Linked DNA regions of Homo sapiens: all the other regions are linked to region 3. Evidence: fine-mapped expression QTL. Tissue or cell type: whole blood. Region 3 holds a variant in brackets; each other region holds the start of a gene. All regions are shown on one strand. Distances are from middle to middle.

Region 1 (8,102 bases), 25 kb before region 3:
ACGCCGCCCCTAATCCCGCTTGAAGCAGCCCTGGGAAACATCGCCCATTCTCTCTCCATACCACCCTCCAAAAATTTTCGCCACCCCAACACTTCAACACTATTTTGTTTTATTTTTCTTATTAATATAAGAAGGCAGGAATGTCAGGCCTCTGAGCCCAAGCCAAGCTATCCCATCCCCTGTGACTTGCACATATACGCCCAGATGGCCTGAAGTAACTGAAGAATCACAAAAGAAGTGAATATGCCCTGCCCCACCTTAACTGATGACATTCCACCACAAAAGCAGTGAAAATGGCCGGTCCTTGCCTTAAGTGATGACATTACCTTGTGAAAGTCCTTTTCCTAGCTCATCCTGGCTCAAAAATCACCCCCACTGAGCACCTTGCGACCCCCACTCCTGCCCGCCAGAGAACAAACCCCCTTTGACTGTAATTTTCCTCTACCTACCCAAATCCTATAAAACGGCCCCACCCTTATCTCCCTTCGCTGACTCTCTTTTCGGACTCAGCCCGCCTGCACCCAGGTGAAATAAACAGCCATGTTGCTCACACAAAGCCTGTTTGGTGGTCTCTTCACACGGACACGCATAAAAGCAAGTAGCCACCATAGTGGACAGTACAGGCCTAGTGTCCAGCATGATGCCTGACAAATGAAAGATGCTTAATAAACTCTTCTTAAGTGTATGAAAGGATGGAGTAGAATAATTTTTACTCTGCTTTGCACTGTCCAGACTACACATCTGAAATATTATGTTCTGTTCCAGGCACCAAATTTTAAGAGGGTTAGTATCAACCTAGACTATAGAAGGAAGTAGGATGATAACAGTCCCAAAACATCAGCCATAGTTGGCAGAACTTGGAATGTTTTGTATGAAAAATAATAGCCTTTGCATGAAATCAAACTAAATGCCCATCAATGACAGATTGGATAAAGAAAATGTGGTACATATACACATGGAATACTATGCAGCCATAAAAAAACAGATAGTGTCTTTTGCAGGAACATGGATGGAGCTAGAAGCTATTATCCTTAGCAAACTAATGCAGGGAAAAAACCAAATACGACATGTTCTGACTTATAAGTGGGAGCTAAATGATGAGAACTCATGAACACAAAGAAGAGAACAACAGACACAGGGGTCTACTTGAGAGTGGGAGGAGGGAGAGGAGCAGAAAAACAAGTATTGGCTACTAGGCTTAATACCTGGGTGATGAAATAATCTGTACAACAAACCCCCATGGCACGAGTTTACCTACGTAACAAAGCTTCACATGTACCCCCAAACCTAAAATAAAAGTTAAAAAAAAGGAAAATAATCATATTTGGATTCATTTTAGGTTTTGTTTTGTTTTGTTTTGTTTTTGTATGCCTTTGGTCTGGATCAAAGTTTTTTTTTTTAATTAAAGGGTTGGATTAGGCAATGTTTTAGGCCCACGTAAGATAGAAAAGTCTATGATACGATAGTTCTTCCTGTAGAAGAGGAAGTAGACTCTCATAGAGCAGAAATTTGATGACCTTGGAGGATACTAGATACATCCACACATGGGGAAGAACTTTCTGAGAACAGTGCAGGAACGGAATGAGGGAGCCAGTGAGCTTCTTCCCTGGAAATACACAAGAAGAGCCTCTCAAAGTTCAAATCATGAATGAATGCAGTCTTCTTTCCAGCCACAAACATTTCCCAGAATTGGTATTTTAGGGCAGCACATGGATTTCCAGAGCTTCCAATCATTAATAATAGTTACTAATGCAAAAGTTACACCTCATGCTTGTGTCTTTCAGAATTGTGTCTGAGTGCGGTCAGTTCATCTTAAGTGACAGGGTTTCGCCCACCAGCCAAATGATTTTGGATTATTGAAGGAGTTGGTCATGAAGAATATGTTTTCACAAGGAAAGTATGCATATACATTCCAAATAACATGGTTGTGGGATAGTCACCATGACCAGAATTTCAGCTTTCTGGGACCCAGTGCTTCCACCTCCAACTGTGCTATGGAGAGAGAGCCACTGCCTTTCCAGGTACCATGTATGTTATAATTGACAGTGTCAGGCCTCTGAGCCCAAGCCAAGCCATCACATCCCCTGTGACTTGCACATATATGCCCAGATGGCCTGAAGTAACTGAAGAATCACAAAAGAAGTGAAAATGCCCTGCCCCGCCTTAACTGATGACATTCCACCACAAAAGAAGTGAAAATGGCTGGTCCTTGCCTTAAGTGATGACATTACCTTGTGAAAGTCCCTTTTCCTGGCTCATCCTGGCTCAAAAAGCTCCCCCACTGAGCACCTTGTGACCCCCACTCCTGCCCGCCAGAGAACAAGTCCCCTTTGACTGTAATTTTCCTTTATCTACCCAAATCCTATAAAACGGCCCCACCCTTATCTCCCTTCGCTGACTCTTTTCGGACTCAGCCTGCCTGCACCCAGGTGATTAAAAAGCTTTATTGCTCACACAAAGCCTGTTTGGTGGTCTCTTCACACGGACGCGCATGAAAGATAGTACACTTGTATATCATTTTGTATTCTGATACCTTAACTTCTTTACCTTTCACCTAGTTCCTTGTGGCTAAAAATTACTTAAAAATGTAATTTGTAATGACTCCAACATATTGTATAGATAATCATGCTTATTTAACCATTGCCTTTTTGTTGTGTGATTAAGTTATTCACAATTTGCTCTGCTATAAATAATACTGCAATAAACATATTTGTGTGCATTTTAAAATTATTTCCTTAAGGTATATTACACAAATCACAATTTCTACATTGAATTATATTTCGAAGTCTCTTGATGCATTTTGTCAAATTGCTTCCAGAAAGTGTGTAACAATATATATACTCTTGGCACTAGTAGGTGATGGTGCCCATTTCAGCAAGCATCCATCAATATGGAGAAGATCTAAAAGAAAGAAAAAATTACTTGGCCAATTAGATGGGCAAAAGGGTTGCCATTATTGTTGTAATTAACATTTATTTCATTACTGATTTTTTTTAACTACAAGTATTAGTCATTCATATTTCCCTTCCTGTGATTTATCTCTTTGTGCCCTTTACCCAATTTATTCTGCTGTACAGATCTGCTTTTTTCTTATTAAGTCATACAAAGGGCTCATATTTCTTCTCCCAGAAGAGCTAACTCATCCTGCGTGGTTCAGTGTAATCATCACCATTTTCTGGAAAGAGCTGCACTTCAAAAATATACTTCAACTTATACCACATCCATGTGGAAGACCCCTTATTCCCACCACTCTCACTTGAAGTACTTGTCAAAGTTAACACTCATCCTCTGTCAATCCAGGCGTTTCCAGAAGAATCGGTAAGGCTTTCTAGCTCTACCCTCTAACACAGACAATCTCATTCACCCAGAAAAAAAGACACCAAATCAATCAACTGACTCATCTAGTAGCTTGATTTAGTGTGGATTTTCAATGAAAACTTCAAATAAATATATATATTTCCACACATACATACTTAATGCACACACACATATGTATATAATCAGCCCTCTGTATCCATGGGTTCCACATTTGTGTATTCAACCAATCACGGATCAAAAATATCTGGGAAAAAGCTCCACAAAGTTGCAAAAACCAAGCCTTGAATTTGCCACGCAGCAAGTGCTATGTTGACTCCACATGAATGAAGCGCTCTGTATGCGTTGTATTAGGTATTACAAGTAATCTAGGTACTTGTATTTAAAGGGTACTGGAGGATATTTGTAGGTTATCAGCAAATACTACATCATTTTATATAAGGAACTTGAGCATCTATGAATTTTGGTATCTGCAAGGGTCCTGGAACAAATCCCTCACAGATACTGAGGGAGGACTTTGTATATATAAAAATGTATGTGTGTGTGCGTATATATATATATATATATATGTGTATATATATATATATACACATATATATGTAAAATTATATTTTTGCTATTTCTTACAAGTCAATATAAATAAACACAAGCTATTAAGTGTAAGCTCTTTGGAGTAGTCATATGCACATAGTTGAGAATTTGTGAAAGTATAGGAGGGTAACATGGGCACAGATGTTGACTAAAGAGGTATAAAGGGCCAAGTTTGGGTGAGTGCTACACGCAAACTTATCATTGTGTGGATGGGAGACAGAAAGGGAAAATTAGAAAAAGCAAGAAGAAAATGGAGATATGTGGCCATATTTTCTCCCACTCTGGCCCCATACTACCTCTAAATTGCTGTGTACCTTCCTCTCCTCCCTCCTAGATCCAAGAGCACTGCTGGAAGTTACTACTTCCACCTGCCTGGACCCCTCCTTGTTCCACCTCCCTTTTCCTGGAAAAGCGACACCTACCTGAAAATCTCTTCTAAGTAAAAACTTCTATTGTATTTCGATAAGTTCTTGCCCGGATAAGCACAAGAAGACCAGTGGTACCTGCTAATTTAGTGAAGTCCTTGATATGTCCAGTGATAGCTTAGGCGTCACCACTCCTGAAACAGAGATACCATCAGATCACAGACATTAGTAAAGTAGTAAACAATGTAAGTATATAACTTCCTGTTTTAAACAGACTAGCTTCTCAGTTTTGCAAGTTTTCAGAAAGATACTTTCGTGCAGTTCTTCTTTTTCATGATTGACACCACATACTAACCAGTCACCTGAGAAATCCTTGCAATTAGTGCTGCTTTAGGGGCTCTCCACCCATTGGCATTGCTCATTTTTAGTGGTGGGGGGTTGTTATAATTTTTTTTTTTTTTTTAAGACAGGATTTCATTCTGTCACCCAGGCTGGAGTACAGTGGCATGATCTCAGTTCACTGCAACCTCCACCTCCTGGGTTCAAGGGATTTTCCTGCCTCAGCCTCTGGAATAGTTGGTATTAGAGGCACATGCCACCATGCCTGGCTAATTTTTGTATTTTTAGTAGAGACAGGGTTTCACCATGTTGGCCAGGCTGGTCTCAAACTTCTGACCTCAAGTGATCTGCGAGTCTCGGCCTCCTAAAGACCTGGGATTTATAATTCTTGAATAAGCATTGATTTGACTCATCGGGAGACAGGATGAAGAATGAAATAAGAATTTCCCGGCAAAGGAATAAACTAATTATTCTGCAGGGTCCAGTAGACACTTGGATGGGGCAAAATGTGGCTGCAAAGGTTTAGACAAGTCTAAAAGACTTGAGTTTGAGTTTCAGTTGTGGCATACACAGCTACATAAGCTGGGGGTAGTAATTTAAACTTGCTGGACCTCAGCTTTTTCATCTCTAAACTGGAAATAATGATATTTAAGTCATAGCATTGCCGTGGAACCAACTAAGATAAATATGTGAAAAGTCTCTGCAGAATATACAGGGCTAAGGAAATGTAAAGTGTGGGTAGAATGCCACTGTGACATAAGCGTCATAGGGCAGAGCCATGTCTCAGGGCAAAGCGTCACAGGGCAGAGCCATGTGCCTGCTGTATGTGCTGATGTGTCCCTTGGGACCTAGCATGGCACTGGGCACAGAGCAGGTATTCACCCAATATTTGTGGGAAGAACTCTGACTAAGCATGAAGTGATCTTTGATACACTGACTAACTCGACAAATGAGTGTAATGCACCAAAGTGTTTATCAAACGTTTGATATGTGTGTAGGACTGTGCTGTATGCTTCATGATAAAGAAAACATAGGAACAAAAGACAAAGAAAGAGGAAGGAGGATAAGAGAGACAGAGAGAGAGAGAGAGCGCACACACATGTGCATTAGAGAGAGAGAGAAAGAATAGGGAGAGAATTTGAGAGAAAGAGAAGAAAGGGAGGAAGGGGCTCAGTTTCCACCTTAAAGAGTCTATAACCTTGTTGGTGATCAGAGACAACAGAGACCTGATAAAATATCAAGAATGCTCAAATATAGTTAAAGCATAACCAAAGAAACATTTCACTATTTAATCTACAGCATATTCAATATAGCATATTCAAATTGGCTAAAACAAAATTTTCGACTGATAGTAAGATCTCAGACTTTGCTGCTGGACACCTGAATGCAAAACCTACCTTTACCGCTTAATAGGGATATCACCGTGGGCAAGCTACATAACCTCTGTGTGCCTCAGCGTGCTCTACTGCAAAATGATGTAGCAATGCCTAGCTTGTAGGATCTGTGTGAGGAGCAAATAAATTAGGACTACGTGGAGGCCAGTGTGTGGCATGTGGACAGCGTCATGAAAATACTTATCATAGTTGTCATGACAGACCCTCTCAGTGAGAAAGAGGCAGCCACTCAGGGTGGTCTGAAATATAGTATAATATATTGTGCTCTGATTCAGCATGTGGGATGTCAAATGCAAGTTCTACAGGGTTTAGAAAACAGGACCATGTGGGCTGAAGGGACTGGGAACGGCTTCATGGAAGAGAAAGGGCCCGAGGGATGAACAGAATTTGGCCATGTGGAAGGGGTAGGGAGAGTTTCCAGGAAAAAGGAAGTAGAGCTACCAAGACCAAGAGGTGAGGTGAGCTTGGTCCCTGTGCAGGGGTAGGCAGGAATGAAATTAGGGAACAGATATGCTTGCATCCTAATGCCAGGAACCAAGAGCCAGGGAGATTAATATATATACACACATACACATTTTAAAATGTGTAACACATTATATACATCTGTTAGGGTGACACACATTCAGAAGCTCCAGCCCTGCAGAGCATTCAGAGCCACCTGCAGGTCTCTGGCAGAGGGTGGAATTTTGCAGGCCCATTGTGGTGCATCTGGCTTCCACTCCTTTCACTTTATCTGGGGAGTTTTATCCCTAGATCACATGACATGCCAACAGGCGGTCAATGACATCTGAAGACAGGAAAGGCATGGGCCTGGCAGAGGTAGTGGGCATGGAGCAAAGAGTGGAGGGAGATAAGATTGACTGCTGGTTTTGGCTAGATTATAAAGAGTTGACGAGTTCACAGTAGATTCCATGGAAATGTGGGAGCTATTGAAGGATTTTGAGTTATAGTACTGGTACTACCTTATTTGAGATCAGTGTTTGAGGGTTTTCAGAGTATTCCACATAAATTTTCTGGGTGGAAATCCCACAATGACCTTTTAACTTAATAGGGAGATTGTCATCCCAGAGCTGCCTCCATGGGGTGCCATTCACAGGGTAATCAATGCAAACTGCTCCACCTGGGACTACGCAGTAGACCAGAATGAGGAGCAATGCTGGTAATCACCTAACCTGTGGATAAGGGAATTGAGATCAAGTGACCTGTCCAAGCTCACACATGACTAAATGGTGGAGTGGAAATTCCAGCTCCAGTCTCCTTAATTAGCACTCTGTGTTCTCACCAGTGGTGAAATAGAAGGCACCTGGGATTTAGCACCACACAGACCGGGTTCACCTCGCCCATTTATGGCTCATATAGATGAGTCATGTAGCCTTCCTGAGCCCTAATTTCACCATCTACAGTGGAAATTTTGGCTAAGATGAAGCACATGGTAGGAGCTTGATAAATAATCACAATTACCAAATGACATCTCTGCAGAGTTAAAACTATAACAAAGCATTCTTCATCTGAAATCAACAAATTATAGTATTTCCTAGAAGGTTACAAAGATTTAAAAAGCATTTGGAGATTTCTGTAAAGAAGCTACATGCATAAGATTTTTAATAGCTAATTCGCAAGAGATTGTAAAAATTCAGTCACTTCCATTTCTACACCTTGGAGAAAAACAAAGAGGACGGGACAGCATTTTTTTCTGGCATTTTGCAATAAGGCAGATTCTTGTAATAATCTCTACGATTTCCCTCATTAGTTTTTCAGTTAACAACATATTGAAGTGTCATTTGCTTGCACCCATTTTAAGGGTACAGGTCAACAAATTCAACAATTGCATACCTCTCTGAATCACCATCATAATCAAATACAGGACATTTTCACACCTCAAAAAGTACCTTATGCCCCATTTCAATCAATGACTCCCTTATCCCCTGTCCCAGGCAACCGCTGATCTGCGTTATGTTGCTCTAGCTTAGTTTTGCTTGTTCTAGAATATCATATATAAATGGCATCATGCCATATCTACTCCTGTGTCTAGCTTTTTTCTCAGCATAATGAGTTTGAGATTCATTTGTGTTATTCCATGTATCAGTGATTGTAGGGT
Region 2 (8,102 bases), 140 kb before region 3:
TGGCAGATGGGGCTAAGGACCAGTATCATCTCCTGGCTGAATGCGTGAGCCCTTTGCTCACCTTTGTCTTTGTCCAGGCTCAGCCATGCTCATGTCTCCCTCCTTCTCCTCTCAGCCCTGACCCCACTATCCCTCACTCCCATTCATCTGTGCCTGTCACATTCTCTTCTTCACCTCCAGCTGGCCCTTGATTTCAAGACATTGACAGAATCAGAGATTGAGTGAAGAAATTATGAAGACTAGAAAAAGAGGATTAGCACAAGGTAATGAGGCATTTTTCAGGAGCTGAGATGAGCTTTCTGGAGAGTCAAAGTCTCTACCCACAGTTTTTCTGGATTATTCCCTGAGCACATGTTGGATATGCATTGGGTGACATAGTCTGTATTAGTACACACAGCCCTGAGGTTCCTGGGCACCTGCTTTACAGGTTTCTATTGTTCAACAAACCCTTGAAGTTTGTTGTTATATACAGATTGTTATCTCCCTTTATAAACAACAATCAAACTGCTCCTCGTTTTATAAACCAGCCGAGACTTCCTGCTCCCCAGTGGAAGGCGTGTTTGTTGAAGTCACTCCATCCACTGTCTCCCTGTAGAAAACTGGACATTGTTTGCAGAAGCGCTTGGTGATGTGCTTTCGGAAGAACACCGAGAGATACCTTCTGAACTTCTCCCCAACGAAGGCATAGATGATGGGATTGATGCAGCAGTGAGTCATCCCAAGAGTCTCTGTCACCTGCGTGGCTTGGTCCAGTTGACTGGTGCTTTCACAGTTACTCAGGCCGAAGAATTCCTGGAAGGTGTTCAGGAGAATGACAATATTATAGGGAGTCCAGAAGAGAAAGTAAACAATCATGATGGTGAAGATGACTCTCACTGCCCTATGCCTCTTCTTCTCGTTTCGACACCGAAGCAGGGTTTTCAGGATTCCCGAGTAGCAGATGACCATGATGAGCAGCGGCAGGACCAGCCCCAAAATGTTCCTCATTATTGTGTGGAAATTATTCCATCCTCGTGGAAAATAAGGGCCACAGACATAAACAGAATCTTCTTTCTGGCATTTAGTAAAGATGATTCCTGGGACAGAAGCAAACACAGCCACCAACCAGGTGATCACACTTGTCACCACCCCAAAGGTGACCGTCCTGGCTTTTAAAGCAAACACAGCATGGACAATAGCCAGGTATCTATCGATTGTCAGGAGGATGATGAAGAAGATTCCGCCAAAATAACCGATGTGATACAGCCCTGTGAATAATTTGCACATTGCATTCCCAAAGACCCACTCATTTGCAGCAGAGTGAGCCCACAATGGGAGAGTAATAAGAAAAAGCAGATCAGAGATGGCCAGGTTGAGCAGGTAAATGTCAGTCAAGCACTTCAGCTTTTTGCAGTTTATTAAGATGAGGACGACCAGCATGTTGCCCACAAAACCAAAGATGAACACCAGCGAGTAGAGCGGAGGCAGGAGTTGGGCCCCAATTTGCTTCACGTCAAATTTATGACAGGGAGCACCGTAATCATAATCAAAAAAGGTGGTGACTTCTTCACCGCTCTCGTTGGTATTTCTGATAAACCGAGAACGAGATGTGGACAGCATGTTGTGGATGTACTGGGGAAATGCGTCCTTGTTCAATCCACTTTCTCTGTTCTGTAAACAAAGAACAAAATGATGACCACACAACACAAACACCGCAATCCATGATCTTCCAAATAGTCTGGCACCACATAAGCAACTTCCCAGTCTTTGCCCTCTCCCTTGCAGCCATCTCCCTGAAAGCATGTGTGCCAGTTCCTGATTTGCCTTTCATTCCTAGTGGCAGACATCAATGATTTACCCAACAGCCATTTTCCGACACCCTTTATCTTCCCCAGCAAACCAGATTCTCATTTTCAGGCTAAAAGCGCTGGGCGTTTGTTTTCTCTGGCTCCTTTGCAGGTGGTGCATAGGTCTGTGACTCATTGCTGGACCATAATATGAAAAGGGAGTCTGCTGGGGGCTTCTGAGAAAGCTCTTCTTCCCTGATAAGACAGACACAAGAGAACCCTCCACCTGCCCCTCCTGCTCTGGCAGCATGCCTAGTGAGGGCATGGTGCCATGAATGGAAGACCTAGAGAACCATGAGAAGCCAGGCAGAATCCTATTATCACTGAGTCCTAAACCCACCCTTGAACTATTCACCTTCTGCCTTCTTTTTTTTTTTTTTTTGGAGACGGAGTCTCGCTGTGTCTCCAGGCTATAGTGCAGTGGCCATGATCTCAGCTCACTGCAACCTCCACCTCCTGGGTTCAAGTGATTCTCCTGCCTCAGCCTCCTGAGTAGATGGGACTATAGGCGTGCACCACCATGCCCCGCTAATTTTTGTATTTTTAGTAGAGATGGGGATTCACCATGTTGGCCAGGATGGTCTCGGTCTCTTGACCTCCTGATGCACCCGCCTTGGCCTCTCAAATTGCTGGGAGAAAAACAAGCCCCTGTTTTAAAGCCATTATGAACTGCATTTTCTGTTCTCTGAAGTCAAAAACGTTCTAACTGATGATTCTCTCAGCTTTCTGCCTCCATCATCCTGCCAAAACTTCTCTTGTTAAGATTGCAGTGACAACCCAATTTTTCAAATGCCCTGGTTTTATTCCAATTCCACCCTCTTCAAGTATTTGATCCTTCTGCTAACTTCCTCCATTTACAATTCTTTTTGGCTTCCAGATGGGAGGGGCTGTGCTACCGCTTTTTATTCATGTTCTTTGCTGGCATCTCCTCCCCGTGCCCACACCTTAAGATTCCCCAGGCACCACACTTAGCTCTCACCTCTTTAATTTTTTGCCTCTTTATCCTTGCTACAAAGTTCTTCCTGAATTGTATTGTCTAAACTCATGGTTCCTACTCCCTTCTATGCTACTGTTTTCTAAAGCTCTGTCTTCAAGCTCCAGCTTTCCCCTAAGCCTTAGAGTTGAATTTCCCATTGCCTGATGCATATCTCCCCATGCATGTATTCACTGCATCAACACTTATTGAACACCTACTATGAACCATACTCAGTTTTAGGCACTGAAGTGAGCAAAGTGGGTATCATGCAGGGACCTCAAATTCAACCCACCCCAAATGGGGCACTGCTGAAAACTCCTTCCGATTGTGGATTCCTCCATTGCCTAAGAAGCAAAATTGGGCATTGCCCTGGGTTGCTTCTCCTTCTGAAAATTAGGAGCCAGTTTTTGGAGCCAAACAAACCTGGATTTGAATCCTTATAGGCAGTGTAATCTGGGGCCAATTACTCCTTCAAGTGCCGATTTCTTTATGCATAAAATATTAACTATGCTGAGTTGCTGTGAAGATCAATGGAGTAAGGACTTAGGACAGCATCTGACACAGAGAAATGCCCTGTATTATTATCATGTCATTTGAGTTCCACCTCATAGATGCCTCTCAGATTCATCCCCTCTGCACTGCTTTCAACTGTCACTTTCTTGCTTCACACACTCCTCACTCCTGGCTTTGTTGTAGTCTTTCCTTTGCTCATGGCTCATCTCAAGCCATGTTCCCTCTCAACCTATCTTCTCTTAAGTTGAAATTGAATAGTCACTCTTAGCTTAAAACCTCCAGTAGCCCTATGACTTATATGTGGTGGGCTTCAAAGATAATGTCCAGACTGCCCAGCACAACATCTTTTCTGAGTTTGCCTCTTTTCAGCCTCACCTCCAGTCCCTTCTCCAATCCCAAATCCTGTGCTTCAGTCACAGCCATCTTCTCTTCATTTTCCCTAAACTCACCATTTCCTTCATGCTTCAGTGGTTTTGCAGGTCCTTGCCCCTCTGCCCAAAATGATTGGTGAGCTTCTATTCACCCTTCAATACCTCCTGCTCAAATCCCCCTTCTCTGTGAAGCCTAATCTGTATCCTCTGTCATATTACTCTTATCACATAACACTGCATGCATCTAGATAAGCACTTATTATGTTATCTGCTACACACAGCATGTTCCTCAAGATCAAGGACTGGATTATGCTTCTATTTTCAGCTCTTATGATAGTACCTGGCTAAAGGAGGCACCAATAAATGTTCACTGAATGAGTACATAAAACTCTTTATAATAAGAACTATAAGCCCTAACATCATCAGGACTTGATTCTCAAGAATTTTTTTTCTGGCAGTGACTGTGAATTTCTTTTCCACCCACCTGTATACTTTATCCTTCCATTTCTCTTGCAATTGACACTTTTCACAAGTCTTGTATTTCATATCACTGAGCCAGATTCTTGAAATCTGGAGAAGCTAAATAAGACCTCTGATCAAAGTTGGAAAAAAATGCATCTGCCTAAAGAATCACAACTGTGGTCATTAATTGAGTGCTCCTGAAGCTCAGATGCTATGTTAAATGCTGTGCACACATTACTTAATTTCATTTTTACAACTGGCTAGCATGTAGCTTCTACTACAGTGAACAATGAGCAAGATGCCTGAAATGTGCTGTCCTAGGTGTCATTTCAAGTGTCAGAACATGTCACCCAGAACTGATAGAAATCTATCTTTCAGAAAATAAATTCCTTACTTCTGCCTCTGTGGATCTCCTGAGTTGAGGCAAGGGACACATTTTGGTTCAGAGCTTGGATGGTCCTATATTTAGACTAACAGTTCCAGCTCTTTAACGTCCTTGGGTGCTCAGAGGGGCAGAGTGAGCCCCTGGGTGTGTGGACTGGTGACTGAGCAGAGTGGCTGTCCTGGCCTCGCTTGCTGCCCACTCTCCCCCATCACCTGCTGCACGCTGCTCTTCCTCAGGGTTTCTCTAACATCTCCTGGTGCACATGCCATCCCCACCCCTGCCTCTCATCTTGATCATTCCCCCCAAGTGTGCAGGCTTTGCAGTTCCCCAGGGTGTACCCAGACCCGGCATTTCCAGCTTTGAGGTGCGTTGAGCCTATGAATCAGAAAGTAATGGAAAAAATGCCTACAACTCACCAGCTTGTGGCTTGTCTCAGGCAGTCCTGGTATGTCAGGCTTCTCAGCAACTGAACCAAACAGATCTAGAGGTAGAAACTTGGCATGCAGAAGTAGGAAATAAAGTTTCCTGCAGAAAGTGAAGGCGGAGATACAGGGCAACTAATGGTAAAGATTTGAAAAAAAAAATCAGAAAAATATAGTTCTTCTTTTCCAGTCAGGAACATTGTACATTGGGTTGAGGTCTCCAGAATAGGATTAATTTTGAAATCTTGCTTATGCAACCTTGAGTGTGAGTCAGGCAAACCCTGTACATCTGCTCCTGTTTCTAACGACTCTGAGCTTCTTTATCTTGTGGGTCTTTATACCTGGAACATTTCCACTCTCTGCTCTCCTACTAGTGATAATTTGCATGATATGAGCACAACAGAATGTTTCATGTTCCAGAGAATAAAGGGTATTGGTGATAGTGGAGGAAGTATAATGAGGTTTTACTGCGATCATGTGTGCTGGTTTCAGTGGTATCATGGATTCAGAATCTGGTTAGAAATTTCATTTAGATAAGACTTTAAAATTTTTTTTTATTTAATTCACATAATAATTGTATATATTTATGGGACACAATGTGATGTTTTGCTACATGTATACATTGTGCAATGATCAAATCAGGGTAATTACATATCCATCCTCTGAAACATTTATCATTTCTTTTGAAATAATAATGATATTGAAAACCCTCTCTTCTAGCTATTTATATATACAGAATTCATTATTAACTACCGTCACCCTACTTGGAGCAGAGCACCAGCACTTGTTTCTCCTATCTCATGGTAACTTTGTACCCGTTGATCAACTGCTGCCCATTCTCACCTCCTCTCTTTCCTCCCCAGTCTCTGGTAACCACTGCTCTACTGTCTTTTTCTAAGATAGCAACTTTTTTTTTTTTTTTAAATTGGGTTTCATTCTGTCACCCAGACCGGAGTGCACTGGCACAGTCTCAGCTCACTGCTACCTCCACCTTCTGAGTTCAAGCCATCCTCCCACCTCAGCCTCCTGAGTAGCTAGGATTACAGGTGTGTGCCATCATGCCCGGCTAAGCAACTTATTTAAAAAAAAATTCCACATAAGAGTGAGATCACGTGGTATTTGTCTATCTGTGTGTGGCTTATTTCACTTAACATCCTCTAGGTTCATCCACATTATCACAAATTACAGGATTTCAAACTTTTTAATGAAAAGGAAATGCTAAATTATCTCTTGTGTCAGGAACGTCCTTAGCAAGAAGAACCTCAGTTATTTTAAATGCCCCTCCTTGGAAAGACGTTTTGTTAAAAGATAATGTAAATTTTGCAATGGGGACATCAGACTAGGAGCATTCCTAAGATTGTGCAGAGAACATGGTGTCATCTAAGTTGGCCCCTGGCACTTTCTGGAATCCAGCAGACACCGGAGGCAGGATCTCATGCTGTGGACTTGGCAAGTTTCTAAGTTTCCATTTCCCAAATATGAAATATGAATAACAAGACTGGGGGTCTATGAGGGTAAATGGACCTAAAGCAGCTAGAGCAGGGTCTGGCAGGCACTCCACAGGTAACAAACAGAACAGAACAGTCTGAGCCCTGCAGAGTGCCAGAGGTTGAAGGATGCATCCACTGCTAGAGCCAACAACAATCAAATGCTCAGGGCAGTCCAGGTGTCCTTTCCAGATTTCAAGAAGTTGGCTTTTTTGCTGTTGTTGTTGTTGTTGTTGTTGTTGTGTTATGTTGTGTTTTTGCTTTCTTTTGCGACAAGATCTTGCTCTGTTGCCTAGGCTGGAGTGCGGTGGCATGATCATGCTTCACTGCAGTCTCAACCTCAAGCAATCCTCTCATCTCAGCCTCCCAAGTAGCTGAGACTACAGGTGCATGCCACCATGCCTGACTATTTTTTGTAGAGATGGGGTTTTGTCATGTTGCCCGGGCTGGTCTCGAACTCCTGGGCTCAGGCAATCTGCCTGCCTCAGCCTCCTGAAGGGCTGGGATTACAGGTGTGAGCTCCTACACCCAGCCCAGATTTCAGTCAGTTGTAACCATGTGTCCTGTGTAAGACCTGGTATATGTGCTAAGTAAGACCTGAGACTTGAAGGGTCTCAGGTTTTTTCTTGGAAGACAGCTCATTGCCTGTTCAGGAACATAGCAAGTTCCCCAGTTGTCTCTCAATGTGTCTCTGGGCCGGAATTGGAGCATATCTCTGAGATTTCAATAATAAGACAGGTCATCCCTGACCTGGTAACACTGAGCTTGCTGCCACTTCTGGAATCTCCTGACCCTGGCATCTTGCCACCTGTTCCTATGATTCAACCCAGGATGGGGAAGAGCAAGAGCCAGAAATTTTGCTCTGGCTGATTAGGACCGCTCTCCAATTTTGTCTTCACATTGTGATCTTTGTCTCCAGCCCTGTAATTTCATAAACAAGGAGAGGCACAGAGGTAGATAGTTGCAGAGCCAGGATTCAAACCTTTGGCTTATACTGACACAGAGGGCAGGATAACAGAGGGCACCCTCCGCTGAGATTTTGAAGAGACAGTATAGAATGAAAATATTTTTGGAGGGGTGAGCAGGCTTAAAAGAAGCAACAGGGATGGTGAGGTGGTCTGTCATCCCTATGCTTTGTGGGAGACCAGAATTTGACACCCTAAAATGTACCTCTTTTGCATAAGGATTGTTGAGCTGAAGGCAATTAAGAAGCAGATGAAGGAAAGCTCTTTTCCCTCCCTTTATTTGTCTAAAAGCAGGATATAGACTTACAAAGACAAAACGGATCTGCACCCCCCTCCACACCTTCTGCCAGGGTGAACAAAGGTTCACCACTGAAGACAAATTTAAATCCTTGTGGACCTGGAGATGGCACCAGAGGAATCTTCATTAACAAGTATTACTAACCAGCCTTTACCTCCATTTATTCCTTTTGCCTTCCTACAAGTCACTGTCCCTAGAGGCTCAAAGTTCATTTTCTTTGTCTTGTCATATCTCTAAAATGTTACTGAACTTTGTTGAAGATGCTATATGAGCTGGAATTCAAAGTCACCTTTTTAAGAATTATTCATTCCCTGGATAGCTCCTATGTACGTATAAAATATGTACGTTAATAAACTTTTCTCGTGTTAATCTGTCTTTTGTTACAGGGGTCCATTCC
Region 3 (8,110 bases):
AAGGGGCAAAAGAACACAGGATGATCCTTTGGAAGAAGTGAATGTGCATTTCAACAACCGGAAACCTGCCAGGGGTTCTTGGAGGAAAGCAAGCTCAAAAATGAAGGCTTAAGCAAAACAAAATAGCCCACCCCGCAGAATAACCCACAGAGGGAAAAGGAAGACAGGAATAAGACTAAAAGTCTAGAAAAGGGAAGTGCAAATTGGGTTCAAGATGCCTCAACTGCAGGCAGAGCCGTGTGGTTTGAACTGTTTGTGTGACTTGAAACATAGCCCAGCCAAGGTCAGGACCTCTCTTTGTGAAGGATTGGGCTGCGGGGGGCATGTGAGGGGTGCATCTTGCATGTGCAGGAATACCCCTACAACTAGGGAATCAGGCCCCAGCTGCTAGTGGGAAGAGCAGATATTCAAGTAAAAGCTATTTCTGCTGAAACCAAAGATTTATATAAACTCAGATACAGTATTTGTTGCTGTTGTCAGATCCATTTGTCCTTGAAGACTTAAGATGAAAGAAATGCAAACATCTTCCCTGTACATTCATGGCCTATAGGTACTCTGCAATGGTGTGCTGGTAAATGTTAACAACCAGCTTTCTGGAGGAAGAATCAAAACAGGCACAACATGCCTGATATAATAGCATCAATTTCCAGTTTCCTTGGTGTAAATACTCTCCGTGGCCAAGTTCAAGTTGTGAACTTAATATCACTAAGGCGAAGGTGGGTCTAACAGAGTTTAGGTAACCATAATAACAGAGTTTGTTGAGTTTACATTATTTGCTAAATTCTTCATGTGCATCATTTTATTTTATTATTTCAATAGTTTTTGGGGAACACGTGGTGTTTGGTTACATGGATAAGTTCCTTAGGTGTGATTTCTGAGATTTTGGTACCCCCATCACCTAAGCAGTGTACACTGCACCCAGCGTGTAGTCTTTAATCCCTTGTCTCTTTCCCACCCTTCCGTCTAAGTCTCCAGAGTCCATTATGTCATTCTGATGCCTTTATATCCTCACAGCATAGCTTCCACTTATAGGTGAGACCATAGGATGTTTGGTTTTCCACTCCTGAGTTACTTCACTTGGAATAATGGTCTCCAACTCCATCCAGGTTGCTGGGAATGACATTATTTTGTTCCTTTTTGTGGCTGAGTAGAATTCCATGGTATATGTATATCACATTTTCTTTATCCACTCGTTAGTTGACGGACATTTACTTTGGTTCCATATTTTTGCAATTGTGAATTGCGCTGCTGTAAAGATGCATGTGCAGGTGCCTTTTTCATTGTAACGACTTCTTTTCCTCTGGGTAGATACCCAGTAGTGGGATTGCTGAATCAAATGGTAGTTCTACTTTTGGTTCTTTAAGGAATCTCCATACTGTTTTCTATAGTGGTTGTACTAGTTTACATGCCCAGCAGCAGTGTAAAAATATTCTCTTTTCACCACATCCCTGCCAACATCTATTATTATTATCTATTATTTTTTGATTTTTTAATTATGGCCATTCTTGCAGGAGTAAGATGATATTGCATTGTGGTTTTGATTTGCATTTCCCTGATAATTAGTGATGTTGGGCATTTTTTCATATGTTTGTTGTCCACTTGTGTATCTTCTTTTCAGAATTGTCTACTCATGTCCTTAGCCCGCTTTTTGATGGGATTATTTGTTCTTTTCTTGCTGATTTAAGTTCCTTGTAAATTCTGGATATTCACCATTTTGTCAGATGCACAGTTTGCAAAGATTTTCTCCCACTCTGTGGGTTGTCTGTTTACTCTGCTGATTATTACTTTTGCTATGCAGAAGCTTTTTAGTTTAATTCAGTCCCATCTATTTATCTTTGTTTTTGTTGCATTTGCTTTTGGGTTCTTGGACATGAACTCTTTGCTTAGGCCAATGTCTAGGAGAGTTCTTCTGATGTTATCTTCTAGACTTTTCATGGTTTCAGGTCTTAGATTTAAGTCTTTTATCCATCTTGAGATGATTTTTGTCTAAGGTGAGAGATGAGGATTCAGTTTCATTCTTCTACATGTGGTTTGACAATTATCCCAGTACCATTCGTTGGAAAGGGTGTCCTTTCCCCACTTTATGTTTTTGTTTGCTTTGTCAAAGATCAGTTGGTTGTAAGTATTTGGCTTTATTTCTGGGTTCTCTATTCTGTTCCATTGGTCTATCTGCCTGTGCCTATTTTTATACCAGTACCACGCTGTTTTGGTAACTATAGCCTTGTAGTATAGTTTGAAGTTGGGTAATATGAGGCCTCCAGATTTGTTCTTTTTGTTTAGTCTTGCTTTGGCTTTGTGGGCTCTTTTTTGGTTCCATATGAATTATAGGATTTTTTTTCTAGTTCTGTGAAGAATGATGATGACATTTTGATGAGAATTGCATTGAATTTATAGATTGCTTTAGGCAGTATGGTCATTTTCATAACATTGATTCTACCTGTCCGTGAGCATGGGATGTGTTTCTATTTGTTTGTGTCATCTATGATTTCGTTCAGCAGTGTTTGGTAGTTTTCCCTGTAGAGATCTTTCACCTCTTTGATTAGGTATATTCCTAAGTATTTTATAATATTATTTTTTGCAGCTGTTATAAAAGGGGTTGAGGTTTTGATTTGATTCTCAGCTTGGTTGCTGTTGGTGTATAGCAGTGCTACTGATTTTTGTACATTGATTTTGTATCCTGAAACTTTACTGAATTCCTTTATCAGATCTAGGAGCTTTTTGGATGAGTCTTTAGAGTTTTCTAGGTATGTGATCATATCATGGGCAAACAGCGACAGTTTGACTTCTTCATTACTAATTTGGATGGCCTTTGTTTCTTTCTCTTGTCTGACTGCTCTGGCTAGAACTTCCAGTAATATGCTGAATAGAAGTGTGAAAGTGGGCATCCTTGTCTTGTTCCAGTTCTCAGAGAAAATGCTTTCAACTTTCCCCTTTTCAGTATAATGTTAGCTGTGGGGTTGTCATAGACGGCTTTGATTACCTTATGGTATGTCCCTTCTATGCTGATTTTGCTAAGGGTTTTAATCATAAATGGAAACTGGATTTTGTCAAATACTTTTTCTGAATCTATTGAGATGATTATATGATTTTTGTTTTTACTTCTGTTTATGTGGTATATCACATTTATTGACTTACATATGTTAAATCAGCCCTGCCTCCCTGGTATGAAATCCACTTGATTATGGTGCATTACCTTTTTGATATCCTGTTGAATTCGGTTACCTAGTGTTTTGTTGAGGATTTTTGCATCCACATTCATGAGGGATATTGATCAGTAGTTTTCTTTTTTCATTACGTCATTTCCTGGTTTTGGTATGAAGCTAGGGTAATACTAGCTTCATAGAATGATTTAGGGAGGATTCCTTCTTTCTCTATCTTTTGGAATAGTGTCAGTAGGATTGGTGCCAATTCTTCTTTGAATGCCTGATAGAATTCAAGCTGTCAATCCATCTGGTCCTAGACTTTTTTTTTTTGTTGGCAATTTTTAAAATTACCATTTTAATCTTGCTGCTTGTTATTGGTCTGTTCAGAGTTTCTATTTCTTCCTGGTTTAATCTAGGAGGGTGGTACATTTCTAGGAATTTATCCATCTCCTCTAGGTTTTCTAGTTTGTGCACATAAGTTTGCTTATAGTAGCCTTGAATAATCTTTTGCATTTCTGTGGCATCATTTATAGTATCTCCCATTTCATTTCTAATTGAGCTTACTTGGAACTTCTCTCTTCTTTTCTTGGTTAATCTTGCTAATGGTCTATCGATTTTGCTTATCTTTTCAAAGAACCAACTTTTTGTTTCATTTAGCTTTTGTATTTTTTTTTTGTTTGTTTCAGTTTTATTTAGTTCTGCTCTGATCTTTGTATTTCTTTCCTTCTGCTTGGTTCAGGTTTGATTTGTTCTTGTTTCTCTGGTTCCTTGAGGTGTGGCCTTAGGTGTCTATTTGTGCTGTTTCAGACTTTTTGATGTAGGGGTTTAATGCTATGAACTTTCCTCTTAGCACCGCTTTTGCTGTATCCCAGAGGTTTTGATCAGTTGTGTTACTATTGTCATTCAGTTCAAAGAATTGCTAAATTTCCCTCTTGATTTTATAGTTAACCCAAGGATCATTTGGGAGCAGATTATTTAATTTCCATGTATTTGTGTAGTTTTGGCAGTTCCTTTTAACTTTTAATTTCCAATTTTATTCCACTGTGGTCTGACGGAGTACTTGATACAATTTTGATTTTCTTAAATTTATTGAAACTTATTTTGTGGCCTATCATATAGTCTATCTTGGAGAATGTTCCATGAGCTGATGAAAAGAATGTATATTCTGCAGTTTTTGGGTAGAATGTTCTGTAAATATCTGTAAGGTCCATTTGTTCTAGGGTACAGTTTAAGTCTAATGTTTCTTTGTTGACTTTCT[A/G]TCTTGATGACCTGTTTAGTACTGTCAGAAGAGTACTGACTTCCCCTACGACTATTGTGTTGCCATCAATCTCATTTCTCAGGTCTAGTAGTAATTGTCTTATAAATTTGGGAGCTCCAGTGTTAGGTGCATATATATCTAGGATTGTGATATTTTCCTGTTGGACTAATACTTTTATCATTACATAATGTTTCTCTTTGTCTTTTTTAACTGTTGTTGGTTTTAAGTCTGTTTTGACTGATATAAGAATAGCTACTATTGCTTGCTTTTGGTTTCCATTTGCATGGAATGTCTTCCCTCCCCCTCACTTTACCTTAAGTTTATGTGAGTTTGGTGGATTTTTATCTATCTGTCATTCTATTTCTTTTAAGTGAAGCATTTAGGCCATTTACATTCAATGTTAGTATTGAGATGTGAGGTACTGTTCTATTCATCATGCTAGTTGTTGCCTGAATACCTTTTTTTTCATTGTGTTATTGTTTTATAGGTCCTGTGAGATTTTCACTTTAAGTAGGTTCTATTTTGGTATATTTTGAGGTTTTATTTCACAATTTAGGACTTCTTTTTAGCAGTTCTTGTAGTGCTGGCTTGGTAGTGGTGAATTCTCTCAGCATTTGTTTACCTGAAAAATACTTTATCTTCCTTTATTAATGAAGCTTAGTTGGATTGGATCCAACGCTCTAGGGTGATAATTATTTTAAGGAGGCAAAAGATAGGACCCCAACATCTTCTGACTTGCAGGGTTTCTGCTGAGAATTCTGCTGTTAATCTGATAGGTTTTCATTATAGATTACCTATAAAGGAGAAGCTGAGGTTTTCGCCTCACAGCTCTTAAGAGTCTTTCCTTCATCTTGACTTTAGGTAACTTGATGACTAGGTGCCTAGATGATGATCTTTTTGTGATGAATTTTCCAGGTGTTCTTTGAGCTTCTTGTATTTGGATTTCTAGATCACTAGCAAGACTGGAGAAATTTTCCTCAATTATTCCCTCAGATACGTTTTCAGATAAGTTTTAGATTCCCTTTCTTCCTCAGGCACACCAATTATTCTTCCAGAGACACAGGTGCCTTCAAGCTCACCCAATGTGTGCAGTGTGTACATAGTACAAGGTCCTTGCTCATTCACTTGGCACTCCAACCTGGGGGGCGTTTCGTGTCAACACATAAAGTTGCATAGCATTCCAGCGGGACTTAATCAGTCCCTTACATTGCAGTGAATGTGCCTGTAATCTGTATCTTCTGCCACATGTGTAAATATTTGTAAGATAAATTCATAAAAGTGGAATTGCTGGAATAAAAAATGCATACACTTCAAATTCCGATAGCTATTGCCAAACAGTCCTCCATGGAGTGGGACCCAATTTCCCCTCCCATCAGCAATAGGCAGGCATGACTTTTCCTCCACAGCTTCACCAACTCAGTGCTGGAACCAGATCTGAAGTCAGGTGTCTGACTCCCAGATTCTGGCTATTCCCATGAAGTGAAGCTGCAGGTTGGGTCTCAGAAGTAGCCATCTATAGGGGCAGCCTAGTGAGCCTGCTCCCTACAACCCATGACCAACCAAAAAATGTTTACTGAACATCTACAAGCTGAAATGTGCTGGGGTGTGCTGGGTTGCTCTGTGGCACCATTCATTCATCTCCAGCCCTCTTGGTCCTCTGGCAGACTCCAACTCATTTCTCTAGCCCCAGGGTAAACATCGATGCAAAGTGTTTCTGACTCCAGCTAACTTCCATTGTGTATCTCTTGAACCCTATACAGACTTCTATCCCACTAGAACGTGATCCTCTAGACCAGGGTGTCTCACACTGTCGTGTGCAAACAAATCCCTTGGGGATCTGATAAAAATGCAGACTCCCACCCAGTAAACCTGTGGTGGGGCCTGAGAGTCTGCATTTCTGGTAAGCTCTCAGGTTTTGCCATCACTTTGAACAGCAGGGTCCAGCACTGATTCTCAAACTCTAGCATAAATAAGAAGCACCTGGAGGACTTGTTAAAACACAGATTCCTGGGTCTAACCTTCAATGGGGCCTGAGAACCTTCATTTCCACCAAGCTCCCAGGTGACACAGATGCTGCTGGTTCACATACCTCACCTTGCATAACACTACTTCCAGGCCCTACCTAACTCAACTTTTAGGACTCTTAACTACTCCATGCTTGACAGAGAGAACACATGCTTAATAGCTGTGTGATGGATGAGGTGTAAGGGAACAAATACCAGCATGAGCACTCAGACTGGATGTAATAAGTGACAGGAACACACATGTGACTGTCTGGAGCTTAGGTTTGGAGTACAAGGATCATTATCAGCTCTTCATTCCTGCCTGACCCCCTGCCAGCCTCAAACCACAATGAGCCACTGCCCCATTCTTGCGAGCACTTAGATTACAGACCTACCAGGTTCTAGTTGGCAGCTCTTGGCACCAGCCTCTTCAGGTACAATGGCCATGCTCTCAGGCTCTCTGCCAGCAGGAACCACCCCAGAAACTTGTGTGTTTGGGGACAGGAAGGGACATTGGGAGGGGATAATGTGCTCTTGGTTCATTCACAGGCTCTCAAATCCTGCCCCCCAGTGTCTGCTTTCTGCTAAGCACTTCACTGTGCCAGAAGACCTGAGGGAAGGGGCTTCCCTACATCATCCACACTGCCCTGCAGCATCCATTACCCTCTGCTTGCCCAGGGAGGAAAGGTGGAGGCACTATCTACTGGTCTCCCCAGAGGATCTGGCTCACAAGTGGCTGTTTTATCACAGAACATCAGGGCTCCTTATTTCTATAAATTGGCAAAAAGAAAAGGCAGCCCTTTTCTCTGTTAGATGTCCTCATACCTCAGTGTGACCCCAGCAGCCACATCCCTGAGCAGAGGTGGTCTGAACATGTCAGAGCAGAAAGATGGGAGGAACCTGAGTCCCAGATGAAGCTGCTAAATTAAATAACTCGGATAGGAATAATGCAATAGAGCAGGAAAAACTGACAAGATGAGAGAAAATCAATAGAGCAATGTCCTTGAGTGAGTGAGAGAGGTTGGGATCCTGCACAAGCGGAAGGGATGGGTTTAGACAGGAACATGGAGAATCCAGCCATGTAACAGGTGGGAGGCAGAGAACTGTCCAGGAAAAAAGTGACCGGTAGCAGGGGAGGTGAGAGGTGGGGGCTTGTAGAAAGTTTCTTCTGATGGCTTTCATTTTCTCAGCGAAATAGGAAACAAGATCATCAGCTAAGAATGAGGATAACAGGTGGTGTTGGAGGTTTAAGGAAAAGGCAAAAGGTGTGAAATAATGTCTAAAAGAGGGGAATGCAGTTGATGGGCATTAAGGATGCTTTGGATACAGCTATCATCATTTAGAGCCACCCTAGTCACTGTGGTTGTGTGATTTTCTCTGGCCATATTTAACTTCACAGATGCAAGTGGGGGAGCTGGATCTAACTAGGACCAAAATTTTGCCAAGTGGGCATGACAGGATCAGAAAAGAGCAAAGGAATTGAGGGTGTGTTTAAGGGAGAGACTGTAATGATGGCTCATGGATTTTTAAGATGATGGGAAGTGAGGGCATGAGGAGGCTGAAGGTCAGTGGAAAATTAAAATATCAGTGGACTGGAGGTCCCACTGGGGTTAAAGAACTGTTGGAGTTGAGGTGCTAGAGGCAGTGAGTAGTAAATGTAGGAGGTGGTGGTCAGAGGCTGGATGCTGGCAGCAGGAAGTATGAAG

The links. PIP is the estimated chance that this variant, and not a neighbour inherited with it, causes the effect.
Region 1: CCR3 starts here. The variant in region 3 is fine-mapped to the expression of CCR3 in whole blood (INTERVAL, PIP above 0.99).
Region 2: CCR2 starts here. The variant in region 3 is fine-mapped to the expression of CCR2 in whole blood (INTERVAL, PIP above 0.99).

The regions. Positions count from the first base shown.
Region 1 is chr3:46,238,765-46,246,866 of GRCh38, reverse strand. CCR3 (C-C motif chemokine receptor 3) reads right to left here and starts at 4,407. Exons shown (of 2, transcript NM_178329.3): 1 at 4,329-4,407. RefSeq lists enhancers at 1,929-2,473, 6,870-7,426.
Region 2 is chr3:46,351,025-46,359,126 of GRCh38, reverse strand. It overlaps CCR2 (C-C motif chemokine receptor 2), which reads right to left and starts at 5,016. Exons shown (of 2, transcript NM_001123396.4): 1 at 4,950-5,016; 2 at 1-1,650. The coding sequence starts at 1,599. The coding sequence ends at 517.
Region 3 is chr3:46,213,703-46,221,812 of GRCh38, reverse strand. It overlaps a transcript of CCR3 not described here. Among named protein-coding and RNA genes, the nearest start is that of CCR1, 9.4 kb to the right of the region's middle. RefSeq lists an enhancer at 1-145. The variant A/G (reference allele first, on the strand shown) is at 4,402.